Regions from separate parts of the Homo sapiens genome. Here region 2 is linked to region 1. The links come from fine-mapping of genetic effects on gene expression. Tissue or cell type: whole blood. Region 1 holds a variant in brackets; the other region holds the start of a gene. All regions are shown on one strand. Distances are from middle to middle. Region 1 has its middle 38 kb from the start of TJP2. Region 2 holds the start of TJP2 (tight junction protein 2).

Evidence for each region.
Region 2: TJP2 starts here. The variant in region 1 is fine-mapped to the expression of TJP2 in whole blood (TOPMed, PIP above 0.99).

The regions. Positions count from the first base shown.
Region 1 is chr9:69,130,905-69,141,554 of GRCh38, forward strand. It overlaps a transcript of TJP2 not described here. Among named protein-coding and RNA genes, the nearest start is that of TJP2, 38 kb to the right of the region's middle. RefSeq lists an enhancer at 1-285. The variant CT/C (reference allele first, on the strand shown) is at 4,321.
Region 2 is chr9:69,168,620-69,179,269 of GRCh38, forward strand. TJP2 (tight junction protein 2) reads left to right here and starts at 5,658. Exons shown (of 23, transcript NM_004817.4): 1 at 5,658-5,813. The coding sequence starts at 5,754. It overlaps LOC124902175 (a long non-coding RNA gene), which reads right to left and starts at 2,978. Exons shown (of 2, transcript XR_007061566.1): 1 at 2,037-2,978. RefSeq lists a silencer at 5,247-5,676 and an enhancer at 6,567-6,756.

The DNA.
Region 1 (10,650 bases):
GAGGGACTGAGTGGTCACCCGGATGGTAGGTGTTGTAGCTGTGCAGGCCTGGCCTTTCCACCATTCTTTCAGGAAGGGCAGCATCCCCGGGCAGTGGGATGTGCTGCTTGTGGCCACAGAGTCACATGTGGACTTTCCTGTAAGAAAGGGAATTCTTTTAGTCTTTCTGGCCGTAGTCCCAGGGATCATGACTAAGTTCTCTCCCTCTTTCTGCCTGTCACTGATAATTAACGTAAAACCAGGATGAGTTTTGCAAACCAGAAGCAAGATTTCTTTGTGCGAGGAGTGACTGTCATCTCTAAAACTGGAGTTTGTGTCCTTGTGTGTATTTGCCTGCTCAGCTTAATAGCTTTAGGCATGCAGTCATCTTAGCATAACTTGATATAAGCCGATTCTGAGAGTGGGTGCTGACATATGGAAGTGTTTTTGACAGTCCACGTTGTGAAGGTCAGGAGGTTTGCTACAGGAAAGAAATCCAAGAAGGGCAGTGGCCCACTGGTGTTGGGTCCTCTGAGAGTGAGCTGTGTTCTACTCTTCCCACTCACGTCACAAAGTCGAGAGAAACATCCCCTAATTTGATTGTATATTTCATTTTAAAGGAATCCTCATTGCGTCTGAGGATGTAAAATATTTCTCTTGGGTTTCGGAAAGAGGCCAAAGCCTGCCCCAAGGTGTTCTCTGTTATCATTTGGGGCATCTGTTGTTAGTAGAGAGCAAAGTGATTTAATATCAGTGCTTGTAAACCAACTGCCTGGTGACTTGCTGTATGGTCAGGAACTGAGTAGCAGCTCCTTAGTTTAGACTTTCCAATTTGCCTTTGATCCCACTCAGCCCTTTGCACAGATGAACATTCCTGCTGGCCCCTGTAGGCCCTGGGTGTGTGATTCCTCTGGTTAATGGACAGGACTGGAAAGGAAATATTTCACAACCCTGCATCTGTGGAGAGGGAGTGTCCTGGAATCCCCAAGACCACCCCCAGTTTCAATGATTCACTAGGAGGACTCACAGTACTCAGCACAGAGTTGTACTCATGGCTATGATTTATTATGGCTCAAAGATGCAAAGCAAAATAAGCCAAGGGGAGAAGTACTGGAGCGAAGTCCAAGGCAAGCAGGCACAAGCTTCCAAGGCTCCTCTCCCAGTAGAGTTACACATGATGTGCTTAATTCCCTGGCAACTAGTTGTGACCACACATGTGAAATGTTATCAACCAGGGAAGCTTATAAGGGACTCACTGCCCCGGGTTTTTACTGGGGGATTGTTACACTGGTGTCCTCTGCCTACCAGCTACCCAAATTTCAGACTCACACAAGGAAAGCAGCTGTTCAGCATAAACCACATGGTTGTACAGTTTAAGGACAGTGTGAGACTCTTACCAGTCCTGGCAGTGGTGGGAATCCAAATTCCCAGGCATCAGCTGAGAGCCACCTTGTAAGTGGGTCTTTCAAAGGATAACAGTCAGGCTTGCTATGTTACCTTTTGGATGGGGATGAGAGTGGCAGGTGAGGATGGTGGTGGGGACCCCTGAACTTGGAGAAGGGATCTGTTAATGCAGCCTCGGGGCCTGGTGCTGCAGGAGAAGGTGGAAGGAAGTGAACTGGGGTTTTGCACCTAGATCCTGGGTTCAGAATGATAACTGGGATTCCTGCACTACACGGATAGAGAAGGGTGGAAAAGAGTTCAAAGTCCTGTGCATTCATTCATCCATTTATTCATTCTTAACAGGCGCTTATCAATGCCTATGCCCTTTGAGGCACTGTGGCAAGGTGCTAAGGATACCACGGTGAGCAGGGTAAATTCTCTGCTCTCATGAGACCCACTTCTAGAGGGAATGAATGAGGAAAGGGGCAGTTAAATTCATTGCTATGGGGATATACCAAAGGCCCTAGGGTACCTACCTGGTAGGCTTAGTGGGAGTTCAGAAGGCATGAATTTTATAATCAGACCAACCTGGGTAGGAATCACACCTCTACTACTTATTACCTGTGTGCCTTGGGCAAGTTACTTAGTCACCTGGTGCCTAGATTTCTTCATTTCTTCATCTAAAAACAGGGAGAATTTATTGCCTTTTTTTTAAGATAGGGTCTCACTGTGTTGCTCAGGCTGGAGTGCAGTGGTGCAATCTCGACTCACTGCAACTTCTGCCTCCTGGATTCAAGTGATCCTCCTACCTCAGCCTCCCAAACAGCTGGGACTACAGGCATGTGCCATCACACCTGGCTAATTTTTGTATTTTTTGTAGAGACAGGGTTTTACCATATTGCCCAGCCTGGTCTCGAACGCTTGAGCTCAAGCAACCCTCCTGCCTCGGCCTCCCAAAGTGCTGGGATTACAGGCATGAGCCACTGTGCCCATCCTTTCTTTTAAGGCTGTTGTGAGAACTAAACAAGGCCGTGTATGTAGAGTGCTTATTTCAGGGGCTGGCACAGTAGAAATGTTCACTAAATAATGGCTTAGCGACGCCTAGCCAAGGATAGGTGTGTATTCTCCGGAAAGACTGGCGTCTGCTGCATCTTCACTCTGCAAGTCACTTCAGAGGCATCCCCTTCAGCCCTGGGCTCATGGGTGCACACAAGCCTGCATTCCTGCCACACTGCTCCGCTTGCTGGTCTAAGAATGCTTTCCTGTTTCATTTTTCTGGCTTTTTTTTTTTTTTTTTTTTTTTGAGACAGGGTCTCGCTCTGTCACCCAGGCTGGAGTACAGTGGCGCGATCTCGGCTCACTGCAGCCTCTGCCTCCCGAGTTCAAGCGATTCTCCTGCCTCAGCCTCCTGAGTAGCTGGGACTACAGCGTGCACCATCATGCCCAGCTAAGTTTTATATTTTTAGTACAGACAGTGTTTCACCATGTTGTCCAGGCTGGCCTCGAATTCCTGACCTCAAGTGACCCGCCTGCCTCAGCCTCCCAACGTGCTGGGATTACAGATGTGAGCCACCATGCCCAGCCTCATTTTTCTGGCTCTTGAACACACTTTTCTCTTTACCTGGATGCCCCAGATTTCTTTTGTCAGCCTAAGGAATATGTACTCCTATTATTAAGACCCAACTCAAGTACTTTCTCTTTTCTCTCTTTCTCTTTCCCAAGCCAAGTCCCTCGGACAGGATTGCTCATGCTCTCCTATGTCCTACCCTGGTTCCATGGTCACTCACATCCGTATTACAGCATGCTGGGTCGCAGTTGCTTGTTGCAGCATTAGACTGGGTGATTTTTGAAGGCAAGGATGGCTTGGTATTATTTGAATCTCCAGTGCCAATCAGACTGTTTGATAGGGACCAGCTCAGGGGATGTAGAGGGAGTGAATGAATGAGTGTGGAGTTGGACTGGAACACCCAACGTGAAATGGATACAACGTCAGCAAAATAGGTCTCTGCCCTCAGAGCAGAGCTTACAGTCTGGAGGAGGCAGATGGTGCACAGGTAAACATAAATATAACAATTAGAGACTAAGCAGTGACACAAGTCCCACAGCAGGTGCAGGGAGTCTCTCCTGGGAAGAGGGAGAAATAGGAAGTTGGAATGTTGATACCCTGGGCAATGTGGGGCTGTTGTCTGGAGTGTGAGTGGTGTTGGAGGCCTGAAGGGCTGGTCCTGTGGGGTGCACACCTGGAGAGCTAGGAGGCGGATAGTGAAGCAGTGGTCACTGGCACCTCAGCTGCCAGAGGGCAGGATTGCAGCAAGATCTAAGTGTCCACTTGGAAGGCTGAAGTGCTCCACTCAAGCAAGACAAACTGGGTTCGAGGAACCCAGGGTCAATAGAGGAAGTACCACCCAGCGAGCTGAAAGACCTGTCTGAGCTGGGCCTACGACCTGTGTCTTAGTCAGCTCGGGCTGCTATAATGAAGTACCAATGACTGGGTGGGTTAAGTAACAGACATTTGTTTCTCAGCGCTCTGGAGACATGAGGTTTGATACCAGGTGCCAGGATGGTCAGGTTCGTGGTGAGAACCCTTTTCCTGGCTTGCAGACAGCCACCATCTTGCTGTATGCTCACATGGCCTTTCCTGGATGCATTGTGTATGGAGAGAGAGGGAGAAGAGAGAAGAGGAGAGAGAGAGAGAGAGAAGAGAGAAGAGGAGAGAGAGAGAGAGAGAGATCTGTTTCTCTCATTCTCTCTCTTGTTGTAGGGACACTAATCCTATCATGAGAGTCCCACCCTCATGACCTCATCTAAACCTGATTACCTCCCAAAAGTCCTATCTCCAAATAGCATCACACTGGAGGTTAGGGCTTCAACATATGAATTTTGGGGAGATACAAACACTCAGTCCTTAGCAACCCAGGCCAATAACGATTTGCTGAGTAAATAATCATGGCTGGCACT[CT/C]TAATAGCTCTTTGAATGGGACAGGACCTAAATGTTTTGCATATAGTCATTAAAATTCATTCTCAAACAATCTCACTAGGTATGGCCATTATTTATTATCCCCGGTTTACAGATGAGGAAACCCAGGCCCTGAAGAATTTAAGTGATTTGCTAATTAAGTGTGAAGCTGGGATTCTGACCAGGCAGTCTGCTTCTAGGGTCTAGGATTTTGTTGTTGTTGTTGTTTGTTTTTTGAGGCAGAGTCTCGCTCTGTCACCCAGGCTGGAGTACAGTGACACGATCTCAGCTCACTGCAACCTCTGCCTCCCGGATTCAGGTGATTCTCCTGCCTCAGCCCCCTGAGTGGCTGGGATTACAGGCATGCACCACCACACCTAGCTGATTTTTTTTTTTTCTTTTGAGACGGAGTTTTACTCTTTTGCCAGGCTGGAGTGCAGTGGCGTGATCTCGGCTCACTGCAACCTCCACCTCCCGGGTTCAAGCAATTCTCCTGCCTCAGCCTCCCAAGTAGCTGGGACTATAGGCTCGCGCCATCACGCCCAGCTAATTTTTGTATTTTTAGTAGAGATGGTGTTTCACCATGTTGGCCAGGCTGGGCTCAAACTCCTGGCCTCATGTGATCCATTTGCCTCAGCCTCCCGAAGTGCTGAGATTACAGGCGTGAGTCACCGTGCCCAGCCAAGTGTAGGGTCTTAATCATTATACTTGCCTGACTCTTAATTAAGAAGTAAACTCTAATATTATTGGACGTCAGTCAAGTGCTAGTTCCTGAGTGAGGAGAGATATTAGAGATAGAAGGATGACTATGACATCATACCTACCTTTTAGGCTATCTCAGAATGCTCAAAGAGATATTATTTCTTGATGTCAATTCAAATTTGATACCACCAAGAAACTTTTATCTTTGTCTTGTAACTGTGGTCCATAGAACCAATAGCAGAGGAAAGTGTTTTGCAATTTCAAATGTGTCTCGTGGCTGAACTGCTGACAAAAAAATATGTTTTTTAAGAATAATGGGTGCAGTGGCTCATGTCTATAATCCCAGCACTTTGGGAGGCCAAAGCGGGAGGATCACTTGAGACCAGAAGTTTGAGACCAGTCTGGGTGACATAGTGAGACTTCATCTCTACTGAAAAAAATGAATAAATAATGAGCTGAGTCATCAAGTTAAAATGTACAGTTCATTTTAGTAGAGTGTATACTATAATGACAATAACTTCAATGATGGTAAAAGGTATCCTAAAATTTATAATACTAATCAAATCATAATACAGTTTGAGAAAATATAGAACCATTTATGTAAAAAAGTTTTTTTTTAGCTAAAAATAAATGTAGATGATTTGGAAATATTTTACAGGAAAATTTAGAACAAAGTGTCTTAAAGACTTTGCGGTGTTTCTGGATCTTGACTACTAGGGTCATGTGCAAGCTCAGTGAATGCAGGAGGAAACTACATCCATTTCCTGGTTGGGGGTGTCTGGGAAAAACTCAGCCCATGAGGGAGAAGGAGAGGATGAGGAGGACAGCGGCCCTTTGGTGAGAAGCCTGGTGATGGTGGTAGGGTGTGTTCACTCAGGCTTCCTGGAGAAGGAGAAGGAAGAGGATATCCTCTTGTCATGAACTCCACATTTGGATTCACTGGAAACAGATTTGGGAAAGAGCAGGAGGAGAGGGAAGAGGTTGGGGGTGTGGGACCCTCCTGTCTCCGAGGAAGCAGCACCACTGCTCAGGGCAACGCTTTGTGTGTGTCATCAGATGCTAGAGGATCCACTTCCAGAAGGCACTGAGCAGAGTGGAAGGAGTCAGCCCTGCTGCGTAGGAGCTGTGCGATCCAGGCCAGGTTCCTTAGCTCTGCCTGATCCCTGAATTATGTGGCTCGAGTTTCATTGTTCTGTTGGTTATTCTCTTTCTCAGGTCGGCAGCCTCTCGTCATGAGCTGAGGTTTTGTCCAGCTGCCCACACTCTTCAACCAATGATCATGAGCTTCTTTGTTTTCTTTCCTTCTTTCTTTCTTTCTCTCTCTCTTTCTTTCTTTCTTTCTTTCTTTTTCTTTCTTTCTTTCTTTCTTTCTTTCTTTTCTTTTCTTTTCTTTTCTTTTCTTTTCTTTTTTTTTTTTGAGACAGGGTTTTGCTTTGTTGCCCAGGCTGGATGGAGTGTGCAGTGGTGTGATCACAGCTCACTGCAACGTGTGCAGTGGTGTGATCACAGCTCACTGCAATGTCTGCCTCCCAGGCTCAAACGATCCTCTCGCCTCAGCCTCCTGAGTAGCTGGAACCACAGATGCGCACCACCAGGCCCGGCCAATTTTTGTATTTTTTTGTTGAGATGGAGTTTTGTCATGTTGCCCAGGCTGGTCTCGAACTCCTGGGCTCAAGTGATCTGCCCGCTTCGGCCTCCCAAAGTGCTGGGAATACAAGCATGAGCCACTGTACTCAGCTGAGCTTTTTTTTTCAAGGGACAGAATCTGGCCTTGAGAAGAAGAAACTTTCCAGCTTTTCTTCAAGGTCTTTGAATCTCTTTCTGTGGGTCCCCAGATCTCCTGGTCACAGCTCATCTTGTCATTTGCCTCAGATCTTTCCTCCTCTTCCTCTACTTTGACAGGTAATATCTCAGCAGGCTCCATTTCTTTCTCGTGACAATGTGCAGTCATTTCATTTCCTCTCTCCAGAAGACTTTGGGCAGCTCAATCCAGACATCTTAAGATGCCCCTTTGGGTCTGCTTTTCTGTTCTGTTCTTCCACAGGGTTAGTATAGAATTGATTTTTCTCTCCCACTTGGTTGGTCAGAGGCATGCTTGACTTTGGAACATCAATCACTTTCTGGCCTCATCGTTCTGCCTGTCATCAACAGGATCTCCATCCTGATTCCAACTTAACAGCCCTGTTCTCTTCTCCAAGAGGCATTACCAGTTCTCTCATCTTGAACCAACGTTCCGCCCGTTCCATACCCAGACCCTCCATGCTGTCTGGAGGTCCCATGTCTTTGTTTGCTCATAATAGTTATAAGTGGGTTTTAGCTTCTTCCTCTTGAGTTTGGATGGATTTGGCTTCTGCTGCCAGAGCCTAGATTGTTCTCACGTATCAGACATTGGCTTATCTTGAGGGTGGAGGATTTTCTTTTCCCAGCTGGTTTGCTATAAAGTATATAATGGGCTCAGTCACAGGGCTGGACAGATCCAGGCCATCAGGAACTTCTGGGCTTTCACCTTTTTCCATCACAAGACAAAACTGGATGAGAACTTTACAAAAAAAAAAAAAAGGGCCAGGGACCATGGCTTATGCTTGTAATCCCAGCACTTTGGGAGGCTGAGGTGGGCGGATCACTTGAGGTCAGGAGTTCGAGACCAGCCTAACCAACACGGCAAAATCCTGTCTCTACTAAAAATACAAAAATTAGCCAGGCAGCCGGGAGGCTGGGCATGGTGGCTTACACCTCTAGTCCCAGCACTTTGGGAGGCCAAGGCGGGAGGATCACCTGAGGTCGGGAGTTTGAGATCAGCCTGACCAACATGGAGAAACCCCATCTCTACTCAAAATACAAAATTAGCCAGGCATGGTGGAGCATGCCTGTAATCCCAGCTACTTGGGAGACTGAGGCAGGAGAATTGCTTGAACCTGGGAGGCGGATGTTGTAGTGAGCTGAGATCGCACCACTGCACTCCAGCCTGGGTGACACAGTGAGATTCCATCTCAAAAAAAATAAAGGGGGCTGGGTGCAGTGGCTCGGGCCTATAATCCCAGCATTTTGGGAGGCCAAGGCAGGCAGATCACCTGAGGTCAGGAGTTCGAGACCAGTCTGGCCAACATGGTAAAACTCCTGTCTCTACTAAAAATACAAAAAAATTAGCTGAGTGTGGTGGCTCACACCTGTAATCCCAGCTGCTGGGGAGGCTGAGGTGGGAGAATCGCTTGAACCCTGGAGGCGGAGGTTGCAGTGAGCTGAGATTGAGCCACTGCACTCCAGCCTGGGTGATAGAGTGAGACTTCATCTCAAAAAAACCAACCAACCAAACAAAATGTTTTACTTTAGTCAGTGTTATGGGTTGAATTATATTTCCCACCTCCAAAATTTCTATGTTCAAGTCCTAACCCCCAGTTCCTCAGAATGTGCCTTTATTTGGAGATGCGGTGTTTATAGAGGTAATCAAGCTAAAATGAGATCATTAAGGTGGCCCCTAATCCAATCTGTTCTTATAAGAGGAGGAAATTTGGACACAGACACATACAGAGGGAAGGTAATGTGAAGACATAGAGAAAAGATGGGCCTTCCCAAGCCAGAGAGAGTGGCCTGGAGCAGCTCCTTCCCTCACAGCCCTCGCAGGACCTACCTTCCCAGCACCTTGGTCTTGGACTCGCAGGCATGAGATAATGAATTTCTGTTGTTTAAGCCACCCAGTCTGTGGTATTTTGTTGTGGCAGCCCCAGGAAACTAATTCAGGCAGAATAAGAAATTCTACCTAAAACCAAGAGAGCTATTAATGCAGCAGCTCATGGCACAGCCACCATCTCCCATTGATGAGCAGTGAGAGCGAGACCAGGTCTCCCATAGCCAGGTCCTTGTCTCGAACTCGGCCGTGTCTTCTAGGTTTACCAAGAGCAATAGCTCTGTAGCAGGACAAAGTTCCTCCATAGGGCCCTATACTGCCACAGAGTCCCCTGGGGCCTTCCTGGCCAGCAGGAAGGTCACAACACTGTGGTCACTGGGCAGGCTTCTGTCTGGAGCCAAACCTTCGTCTAGAGCAAGTAGGCGACCGCTGCCGTGAGCGTTGGGGGCAGGCTTAGATCAGTATGGAACTCAAACACCCTCAGAGCTGCCCTGGCCTCCTTCTTTCCTCCTCAGGTGCTTAAACACATTTTAAGTCATCGTGTTCCAGTTTTAATTGATGAAGCCCAAAGTATGTGAGAGGGCAGAATAGGAACACCAAACCCAGTCTGGGGATTCAACGAAAGAAAGCTTTTTGGAAGAAATGAAGCCACAACTAGTCAGCAAAGAAATTAAAATACACTTACACGGTGTATATTATGTGCTGGATGTTACATGTGCTCAGTGCTTTCCATGTAATAACTGGTGTAATTTTAAAAACAACTCTATGAGGTAGGCACTATTATTAGCCCTGCTTTACAGATAACTGAGGCAGAGACATTGACTCTTCCAAAGCCACACAGCTAGTCAGTGATGGAGCTGGACTTCAATCTCAGGCAGTGTGGCCCCCCAATTCATGCTACAGAGTGGGAGGGGTGTGTCAGCAGGTGCAGCGTGGGATCATGTGAACTACTCTCTCCAGCTGCTGTCAGCCAACTGCTGTATCTCAACACCTCATACCCGGTATAGTCACTACCAAGTTCCCAGTTCTGATGTGAGGGGTGTTCCTTTCCTAAAATTCCAGAGCAGAGGTGACTGATATTCCCCTCACCCAATGAATGGCCAGGCCACACTTGTCTTAAACCAGCTCCTGCCAAGATTCTGAATTCTGTGCAACACCTCATCGCTCATGTGCTCCCAGGCAAGGGAACTGCTAGAATCCTACAATTCTAGGCTCATAGTAGAAACAGCGTAGGATCAATTTCTACCAACAGTAATAGGGAGCGGTGTTCCCTCACATAAGGAGTTCAAAGTTTTTTATTTCTCTTTGTTTTTTTGGGAGACGGAGTCTCGCTGTCGCCCAGGCTGGAGTGCAGTGGTGCGATCTTGGCTCACTGCCACCTCTGCCTCCCAAGTTCAAGTGATTCTCCTGCCTTAGCTTCCCAGGTAGCTGGGACTACAGGCGTGCACCACCATACCCAGCTAATTTTTGTATTTTTTTAGTAGAGATGGGGTTTCACTATGTGTTGGCCAGGCTGGTCTTGAACTCCTGACCTCAGGTGATCCACCCGCCTCAGCCTCCCAAAGTGCTGGGATTACAGGCGTGAGCCACTGCACCCGGCCTGAAAGTTTTTTATTTCTTAGGACTGAGAGTACTCAGAGAATCCATGAATTATTATATATATGCAAGTTGTTTGGGAAGGGCAGTCAATTAAGTGATTTTAATGTTGGCTTGAACTATTCAGTAGCAGGGGTTAAAAATCTAGGACGTATCACAACCATAAGGGAGGGCCTCCCCAGTTGGCCCACCAGAGCCAGGCCCCTTTCCTCTGCTCCCCCGAGCAGGACCCAGGAGCCTACTTTCCTTTCTTTGTGGTGTTTTCCACCGCCCACTCCAGCCCTTGGGTCCCTGTACCCTCCAGCCAGCCTGTCTTTCAGTCTCACTGTTTTTCCCACAAGGACCACTCTTCCTGAAGAGGCATTAGGAATGGAAAAAGAAGGACAGATGGGAGAGAGGAAGGGAGGGA
Region 2 (10,650 bases), 38 kb after region 1:
CCCCATCTCTACTAAAAATACAAAAATTAGCCAGGTGTGGTGGTGGGCGCCTGTAGTCCCAGCTACTCAGGAGGCTGAGGCAGGAGAATCGCTTGAACCTGGGAGGCAGAGGTTGCAGTGAGCTAAGACGGCGCCATTGCACATTGCAATCCAGCCTGAGCAACAAGCGCGAAACTGTCTCAAAAAAAAAAAAAAAAGAAAAAAGAAAGTAATATATAATAACTAAAAGTGAAAGCATAAGGGGGAAGCAGAACGTTAGATGCCGCTCTCCTGGAGGTAATCACAGGGGCCATTGAGTGGGGTGATTATTGTGGGAGGAAGCCTGCAGGTGAACCGGGTGGTTATTGTTAACTGGTGTTTGGACTGAGGAAGATGGGTGGAGCCAGGAGAGGAGATGAGGCTACCTGGAAGTGGGGGCGGGGACGGGGGAGGACACAAGGCCTTTACTGAAAAAACATCAGGTCCTTCTGGCGGAGTTTTAGCTGCTGCCTCAGCACTTTAGTCATCTCTGTAGTTGAGCAATTCTCCTAACGTGTCACAATGTGTTTACATATCGTTGTCTTCAACACACTGTGAGCAGGCTCCCTTTTATAAATTGTCATTATCTTCTGTATAGCTACCCCAGGGTATATGGTAGGCATTCAAGAAAGGTTTGTTAAAGGAGAGTTACGATTCCAGTCTACTTTACAGTGTACACGTTAACTAAATTGTTTGGTGAACCTGTAAACTTTTCTCTTTTTTTTTTTTTTTGGGGGGGGGATGGAGTTTCACTCTTGTCGCCCAGGCTGGAGTGCAGTGGCGTGATCTCGGCTTACTGAAACCCCCACCTCCCAAGTTCAAGTGATTCTCCTGCCTCAGTCTCCCAAGTAGCTGGGACTACAGGCGCCTGCTACCATGCCAGCTAATTTTTTTGTATTTTTAGTAGAGACGGGGTTTCACCATGTTAGTCAGGGTGGTCTCGAACTCCTGATCTCAGTTGATCCATCCGCCTCGGCCTCCCAAAGTTTTGGGATTACAGGCGTGAGCCACCGTACCCGGCTGAACTTGTAAACTTTTCAGTGTTAGTTTTCTTTGCTCCCAGTTGATGATACTTTATAACCATATTGCAGATATATACATATATATATATACACACACACAGATATGTTTCTTAAGATCTCCACATTCTTGAGAAAATATGACTAAAAGGCATTTAGTTTATCTCATTAAGGTCTTCTGACCAACTTATTTCTTATTTTTTGAGACAGTGTCTCTCTCTGTCACCTAGGCTGCAGTATAGTGGTGCAGTCATAGCTTACTGCAGCCTCAAATTCCTGGGCTCAAGCAATCCTCTCCCCTCAGTCCTCGAGTAGCTGGGACTACAGGCACATGCTACCATGCCCAGGTAATTTTATTTTATTATTAGTTTTTGTAGAGACAGAATCTCACTATGTTGTCCAGGCTGGACTCAAATCCCTAGGCTCAAGCAATCCTCCTGTCTAGCCTCCCAAAGTGCTGGGATTACAAGCATGAGCCCCTGCACCTAGCTGACCAACCTATTTCAGAGACCTTATATATTGTAATATACACTGAAAAGTTGAAAAAAATTGTCCATTGCACAAACAATAACTAAATTTAAAAAGAAAAATATATGCACAAGCCTGTCTTTTCATGAAGTCATTTTTTTGCATACTTTCCAGTTTTTATTTTTTTTATAATTTTATCACTGTCATCATCATACATTAGATGTAATTTGTGTTTTTTTGTTGATAATTATAGCATTATCATTCTCCTTGTTGTATAGACTTCCTTATTACAATTTTAAATGATGGTCTGCTATGCCAATTATGTTGATTTACTGTAATTTAATAGCCCAGCCCACCATCATTGGACATTGGTGGTTTCCATCATTCATTATTAGATACAGGCATATAGTGAAGTGCTGCCTCATACCTAGTCATCCACTGTAATCTAACCTCCAGTCGTATCTTTCCATTGAAAAGCTCTGGCCAAGATAAGCAGTGGTCCTCCACTTAATGAACATCATCAGTTCTTACCTTAATTGACCTCCTCGAAATTCCATGTTGTTGGCCTCTCCCTCTTTCCTGAAGTTTGTTCTTTCCTTGGCTTTTTGGACACTCTCCTCCAGAAGCGTTTTCTTTCCTTTCTGGCAGCTCCTCTTTGGTCTCTGTTCTGGCAACTCAAGTCTGCCCCCTAAATATTGGCATTCCCAGAGATGAGTCCTGTCCTTAGTCCTCTCTTGGCTTAATCTACATCACGTCTCTGAATGTGGGATTGTCCCCTCCCAAGACTTCAACTTTTATGATACATTGATGATACCCAAATCACTCCCAAATCTCTCTCCTCAAATACTCATCAGTGCCTAGCACATAGGAGACACTTGATACATATTTGTTAAATTACTGAACATCTTCACCTGGATGACCCATAGCACTTGAAAATCAGTCTGTAACTAAACTCATCATCTTTCTTCAAGCTCCTCCCAAGATCTGCTCCCACTCCTGTGTTCTGTTTTGATAAAAGCCACCGTCATCTCCTTTAAGTAAGCCAGAAACCTGAGAGTCAGCGTAGGCTCACTTCCCGCTCGCGTCTCCCCATATCTAGTCAGGCAGTCATCCAGCCTGCTGATCTACTTCCTTAGTTTCTCTAGAATCTGGCTCCCTTTTGTCTAACACTGCCTAACTTCATAGCCACGTCATCTCTCACCTGCATTCCCACAAAAATGCATTTTTGGCCGGTCTTGTCATTCTTACTAACATTCTCCTCCCCCACCAACCCCTGTCCCCCACCAACTGTCAAATCCATCTTTATACTTGCCTGGGCAACTTCACCTTCTGGCACCTCAAGAGTAAGCCTGCTGTCTCTTCCTTCCTTACTTCTCTCTGTGTTATTTATTCCCCTTACCTGGAAGGCTTTTTTCCTTCTTTGTGTCTTAAAAACTCATTCCGACCTCTCCTTTAGAATGTATAAGCAACCCCATCTCTGGAAAGCCTTCCCTAAGTCTCTCCTGCTAGACCACTCTGAGCCTGCCAGGAATCTCAGTGCTTACACAGTTTATCATTACTTGTTGATTGTCTACTGCAATAGACTGAGTTTCCTAAGGCAGGATCCTGAGTATTTTATCAAGGGGTTGACAGAGGTGTTCAGTAAGTACCTGTTGAGTAGAAGAATTTTTTTTTTTTTTTTTTTTTTTTTGAGACGGAATCTCGCTCTGTCACCAGGCTGGAGTGCAGTGGTGCAATCTCGTCTCACTGTAACCTCCGCCTCTTGGGTTCAAGCGATTCTCCTGCCTCAGCCTCCTGAACAGCTGGGACTACAGGCGTGCGCCACCACGCCCAGCTAATTTTTGTTATTTTTAGTAGAGACGGGGTCTCACCATGTTGGCCAGGATGGTCTTGATTTCTTGACCTCGCGATCTGTCCGCCTCGACCTCCCAAAGTGCTGGGATTACAGGCATGAGCCACCGCGCCCTGCGGAGTAGAAGTTCTTTGGATAAACACATTCTAGGAGTGGGGTCAAAATGTGCAAACCCACACGTGAAGAAGATGACTAATAAATTGTTTCTCCAAAGAGTTGTATTGATTTACACTGCCACCAGCAAAAAAGCTAATATATCAACTGAACCGTGTTTCTAACAACCATTTACTGAATGCTTATCATCTGTCAGGTGTTGTGCCAGAAGAATGGAGTTTGTCTATAAATATTTCATCATTTCGAGTAGTGCAGTCCAACAGAACTTTCTGCATTGATGGAAATATTCTATATTTGCACTGTCCAATAGGGTAGCTATTAGCCACATGTGGCTTCTGAGCCCTTGAAATGAGACAAGTGTGACTGAAGAACTGAATTTGTCATTTCCTCTAATTTTAGTTAATTTACATGTAAATGTAAACACTTACTGGTGGCAAGTGGTCATCTTATTGAACAGTGCCGCTCTAGAGAGAAAAAAGGAAATCAGTCAGTAGATGTAACTGCCACATTCTGGATTATTTTTTAAATGTTAGTGGCTCTAAGCCCACATCATTAAGGTGTGGCCACCTTTCAAGTGCTATCATTTTTATTAGTCAGCACCACCTAATTTGGGAAATATTTTATTTTTTTTTCCTTTTTTTTGATTAAAACAATTTTTAAAAAATAGAGATGGGGTCTCACTATGTTGCCCAGACTGGTCTCAAACTCGTGGGCTCAAGTGATTCTCCTGCCTTGCCTTCCCAAAGTGCTGGGATTACAGGCATGAGCCACCGTGCCTGGCCAGATTTGGGAAACATTTTATAAATAGGTGCTTAGATCAGGAGAGCAATGCCTTACATCAGGAATACAACCAAAATGTCTAAGTCCGGAGACTCGAGGCAAAGTGGGAAACGTTACTCACAGTGCTTTTTATCCAGAGGCGTGGACTTAGTTACTCCAAAGGAGTCCAGAAGCATAACACTTCTGGAGAGGCATCTACTGGACTTGTTTTTCCACGAAACTTCTAGACTTGTTTTGATCAGGCAGGAAGTGAAGCAACTTTTCAGGGAGAGAGCCCAGCATCTGCATCTCCTCTGGGACAGACCACACCTTTTACCTTCTACTTGTGAGCCTAGGACGAGTTTTGCTTTCCAATTAAGGGAAGAGCAGGGCAGGCAAAACTATTCTCTTACAAGATGGTTTTTTAAGATTTCAAACCCAAGGTTATATTTTTAATCGGTACCTGTTTGGATTCTCCAAATTAATTTATATGCTCTTAAAATAAAGACACTTAACGTCACTGCACAATTCTTTGCACATGGAGGACTTCGAAAGGAATAAGCACACTGAATTGCATTAGATGAATCCTGTCAGATAAGCACTTGTGACCTACTGGCAACCTTTTATAAGCTGATGATGGGAGAGGAGTTTCAATCTCTTTATTGGAGTTGTTGGAAATGTGCCAAAGAGATAACCTGGAATATATTGTCCTGAAAAGTCCTGTTTTAATATTTAATACGAACATCTTATAACCCTCGGAATTCGGGTAGGCAGTTGTTGGGCTGAGAAATGTGGGGTACAAGGCCGTGTATGTGTTGGTTAGCCGGGCAGGCCTCTAGACAGGACCTAAAACTTTGAGGTTTTCCCAGTTCGACTCTTCGTAGGAGAACTGAAGCTGCCTGTGTGAGGCCCTGCGAACCTCGCCAAAAAGTCTTCCTACAGGATGCCCCCGCGACCTCACCGGGGAAACACCGCGGACAGTCGGGCCAGCAGCGCCCGGAGCTCACTCCAGGTCTCCAAACTTGCAGCACTTCCCAGAGCGCGCGCGCTCGGAGCGGGACCTGCTTGCTCCAGTGCACGCCGCGGAGCGAACCATCGGGCTGGCGGGGGTGGAGGGGTGCAGGCGTGGGGGCTGCGGGCCGCTCGGGCCTTGGGCTTCTCCTGCCGCCGCCGCCGCCTCCCGCCCCCGGCCAGGAGTCGCGCGTGACGCGGTTCGCCGCAGGAGCCTCGAAGGCGCGGCGCCGGCGAGCCCTTCCCCGGCAGGCGCGTGGGTGGTAGCGGCCAATTTGACAGTTTCCCGGGCCGGGCGGCCAGCGCGGAGGCGCCACGCTCGGGTCGGGGGCGGGCTGACGCCGCCGCCGCCGCGGGAGGAGGGACAAAGGGGTGGGTCCCCGCGGGTCGGCACCCCGGCGGTTGGGCTGCGGGTCAGAGCACTGTCCGGTGGTGCCCAGGAGGAGTAGGAGCAGGAGCAGAAGCAGAAGCGGGGTCCGGAGCTGCGCGCCTACGCGGGACCTGTGTCCGAAATGCCGGTGCGAGGAGACCGCGGGTTTCCACCCCGGCGGGAGCTGTCAGGTTGGCTCCGCGTAAGTGCCTCCTTGTGCCGCGCGGTTGGGAGGAGGGTCGTGAGCGTGAGCGTGGGAGCGCTGGGGGCTCTGCTCGCGTGCTGCTCTGAAGTTGTTCCCCGATGCGCCGTAGGAAGCTGGGATTCTCCCATCCGGACGTGGGACGCAGGGGAGGGGTAGGTTTCACCGTCCGGGCTGATGACTCGTGGCCTCCGGGGCTCCTGGAACCTTTACTCTGAAGTCACTTGGGCTGGAGATTAAGGCGCGAGTAGGGGACACTGTCTTGAACCCGGTGTCCTGGATTTCTGCTGGCTTGGAGGCATCTCGTGTCTGTTGTGTCGCTTGCATGTCTTTGTGTTTTCCTTCTCTATTTCAAACCACACTCGGTATTGATGCAAAGTTACAGGCTTGTGTACGTGAGAGAAACTGAAAACTCATCACAGAGCAGAATCCCTTTTCCCTTTCAATCAGCTGCGTCTGTAATAGAAGTAAAAGTTGTTTTTTTTTTTTTTTTTTTCCAGTAGGGAATGGGGATGGAGGTTTGGAAGGACCCACAAAAGAGGAGTGTGATGAATGCTTTGTATTCTAGTACTAGCCTACCTGTCACCAGTTCTTTTTATGTCTTCATTTGTCAAGTTTCTGCTTTTACACGGTAGTTTAAGTTATAAATAATCAGGGATTTCTACCACAGGGTTTTAACATTCTTGAAATGTGGACAAACTTGGGAGTGAGTGCTCCCGCGCTTAGTAATGGAATACAGCCTCCCACCTCTATTTCAGCTTCAGTTCTTAGGCTAGGCTGCTTTTCTGGCAGCTGTCTGGCCTGAGTAATGATGGTTGTGGTTTCCCTGAAGTTCCCAGCGGAGAGTCATCCCATGATAGAAACTGCCTTGCGCTTCTCACTCACGCTCTCAGCCCGGGGAATCCCAGCGGGGAGGAGGGAGGGAGGTCGTTTTCTTCAGCTCCCCAGGTGGTCTGTGCTGGGTGTGCTGACGGTCCTTTTGGGAAAACAGGTCCACCTTTGCCAGCGTAATTCAGAAAGAGATGTAATTTTCTGAGAGCACACACCTGGGCAGGAGATCGCTTGAAGTGAGAAATTCGTAGTGGTAAATGTATTTGTAGCAAAGTACCACTGCATATCCTGCTTGAGAGGATGAAATTTGATTATTTAGTAAGTTTTCATGAACAACTCCACTTCAGTGTGGGGATTACGCAGATGAGCAAGAGCGTGGCTCTGTCACACAGTCCCGTTGGGAAAGCCTGCAACTCATTAAGAATCCGATGAGTGCCATTTAGAAATGTGGACAGGGTACTGGAGCTTCCTCATTGTGGGGAGATGGCAGAAGCGGAGGTGCTTTACTAAAGCACCGGTGGCTTTTGAGGTGTTTCTTGTGTTTTTTTCAGAACTACTTCTGCAGTGGGGCCACTTTATTTCTTTTCAGAGCTACTTATGCAGATTGATGAAGGGGAACTTTCCCCTCTGAAATGCTGCTGTAACTTTTTCAGTACCATCCAGATATTATAATACTGAATGAGCCCCTACTCCTGCCAGTCACTGTGGGGGATACAAAGATGAACAAGATTCAATTTCTGCATTTAGGGGTCTAGTGGACCTGAAACTGTTAGACTTTACTCTGCAATCTGTGTCGGGATTCCTGAGACTGAGGGAGGGAATGTATGATGCCGATGCACACTCTGCAATACAGAAATTTAGCAAAGAGTGGGATTGGTCCTATATGCATTCCCTTCAGGGGATTCTTGCTGGGAATAAAGGGCATTTGAACAGTTACCTCACCCGAGCAAGCCACTATAGAAAATGGGGCCAGTAATGCGCCCACCTCACCGGGCTGAGTGAGGTCTGAATGAAATGACAGAGAGTACAAGGCATGTGGTGGATGCTACGTAAATGGTGGTAGCTAGTAATAGGAACAAAACGGGTGCTGAAAACTCTTAAGTGTTGGGTCCTGGGTTGATAAGGGAGGTGAGATCTAAAGATACAAGTAGGAGGTGCCAGGTAGGTGTCCAGGAAAAAACTGAAAGAGTTGTTGTTCACACTCTGTTAAAAGGCCTTGAAGGCCATAACGAAGCTTTGGGTGGGGGGAAGTCAGAAATCCCTCATGTATTAAATGACTTGACTTTCCCTACAAAAGAAGCGAACCAGTTTCCCAGTAAACATCCCACCCCATAACTATTTTTGAGGCATTCATAGGCTTAAGACCAATGAATTTTTACATCACCCCCGGGGGAATTGCATTTGCAATGACTTCTGCCTACATTTAACTTTTGATCTAGTTCTTTGTACACTGACAAAAGTTCACAGCCAACCATTTCTCTTCAGGACAAGTGTGAGAACTTTCTGCATACTGCTGAAGGCAAGGGAGATTTTGAGTTTAGCAAGGTTTTCTCTCCTTAAGAAGGTTATCTTTTTACGAGACACAAGTTATTGAAACTAGGCGGGGCCACTTTAGTCCTGTGTACAATAATATGTGTAGTAATATAAATAGTAATTTAAAAAGTCATGCAGACTTGGTTGGGGAGAGGCATGAAGTTTGGGTGTGGTGGGGGCGGGGTGAAGCGGTAGAAGGGTTCGCAATCACTGCTGAAACTTTCAACATATTCTACCAACAATATGAGCCACCAGGGAATTCCTTGCCTCATCTCTAGAACGAATCCCATTAAGCAGTTGTGGCTACAGATGAATTTATCTAGGTTGAGAGCTGATTCCCAATAACATGCCTCATTGATTTGACTCTAAGCAGTAATCAGGGGCCCAACAGTTGTTGGACCAACCAGCCTTGATTTTCCAGAGAAGGTGATTTGGTATATGGTAGTGTCTGAGGGTGAGATTGCCCCAGATGGGAGTGGAGGGAAGCAGAACAGTTTTCTCTGGTGTTTTACTGAGTTTTTGTCTTGATCCTAAATCCAAGGGTTAGGGTCAGAAACACAGACTCAGAGGTTAGATTTAACACCCATTTAGTGGGTTAAACACATCAATGGTTATGTGAACTTTGTTAAGGTTTAAAAAGCTATTTAGGGCCTGTTTCTCCCTCATAGGAATTTTTGCAATCAGCCTTTTTAGTAGATGCCCATATAGAAAGTGAATTTGGGAGGGTCTAAGGTGGTATTACTATTAAACTTTTTGAAAAGGCTGTGTGATAGCAATGGAAAAAAAAATTCAGGCATGGAAATCCAATATGCAGTATTGCAGTAGCTAGTTTTAATTTTATTTTTGTTTTTTTGGTTTTTTTTTTGGAGATGGAGTCTTGCTCTGTTGCCCAGGCTGAAGTGTGGTGGTGCGGTCTTGGCTCACTGCAACCTCTGCCTCCCGGGTTCAAGCGGTTCTCTTGCTTCAGCCTTCAAAGTAGCTGGGATTACAGAAGTGAGCCACCGTGCCCGGCCACTAGTTTTAATTTTGGATGGTACCTAGGAAAGCAGTTGAGCTAGTATGCTGCATACATTGTAGTGTGAGAGGCAGAGTTCCGAGTTGGAGAGTGTCTGCTTCCACTTTTTCCATTTGATTAGGAAAAGCACTTCTTAGAACTGGGTGACTGACAGCTAGAGCCCCAGAAGACCTGCACAAGCTGGGGCAATGGCTACCCATAACAGTGACGGCTCCATTCTGTTTTTTAAAGGGATTGGTGTCTCTATCATCCAGCTGGCCATTAAACAACCAAAGCTTCATCATCCTAGATAACCTGTGAGCTCTCAGAGGAGACAGAGTAAGGACTATCATACCCCCAAAATACCTAATCATTTAATAAAGCATTTTCTCTACCTTTTATGCTATCCCAAAACAGTGCTTTCCAAAGTCTGGTATACAGACAGACTTACAGGTGGTGCAGAGAGATACATATTCTATTTTTCAATTATGATGCATGAATATTATATGTTAGGAATAAAAACAGAAAACCAGCTACCACATCCATTTATTTCATGGCTAGATTGCTTAGAATGAGGCAAAAATAAATATTAAGTAAAGCAGTGAGTTTGCTTTAAGAAAAATTATCAACTCTGGGAATGAGTAATATGAGGCTAAGGCAAAAATGGTAAAGCTAGCCCTTGACATCTGAGGTGTGCATAATACTGCTTAAAATATGAGTGTGGTGCTTACTTATAGAGAGCCTGGTATACCTTGACCACGCCTTCAAGAAAGTCAAACACAGAATGGCCCAGAATAGCCAGGAAAGTTGAATTTGATGGACTTTCTGTCTTAAGCGTGTGCATCCTGCTCTTATCCACTCAGATCTCTTAGATGTGGTTGCAGACAGTGTATTTGTAGAGCTAGCTGTTTGTTTTAACGTCTGGCCCAATTCTCATTCCTTTCTCTGCTTCCACAAGCCATTCTGCAGTTTTTAAAGGTCTGTTGGTATGATATTTTTGATATGATAGAGTGATAGGGGAGGAAGTATTTTGACACTGATGAAGGACATCACTGTATTATCAAGTGACTCTTGCTCATGATTCATTGCCGAAGAATGTGGACAGCCAAACAGCCTCACCTGTAAATGCATTTAATTTCTCAAAGTCTTTCAGAAGAATGCCAACTGGATGAGTTTTTTTTTCTTATTTTTTTTTTAATATGAAGCTTGTATTGGTCTGTAAAATAGGCTTTAACAAGGATTTTCGTAGGAACAGGAAGCCTTGAGGTAGAAAACAAGTATCCCTGCTTTGACCTAGAGAGATGCATGCTCATGGCAGGCGAATGAATCAAGGAGAAGAGAAAATACTGTTTCAGTAGACTCTCTAGTGATGTGTGTGTTCACACCATTTATGAGAAATCCTAAGCTTTCAATTAGTAACTTGTACTTTAGTCATTTAAAATCAGCACAGATGTTTGTTTAGTGCCTCTGCCAGATGGT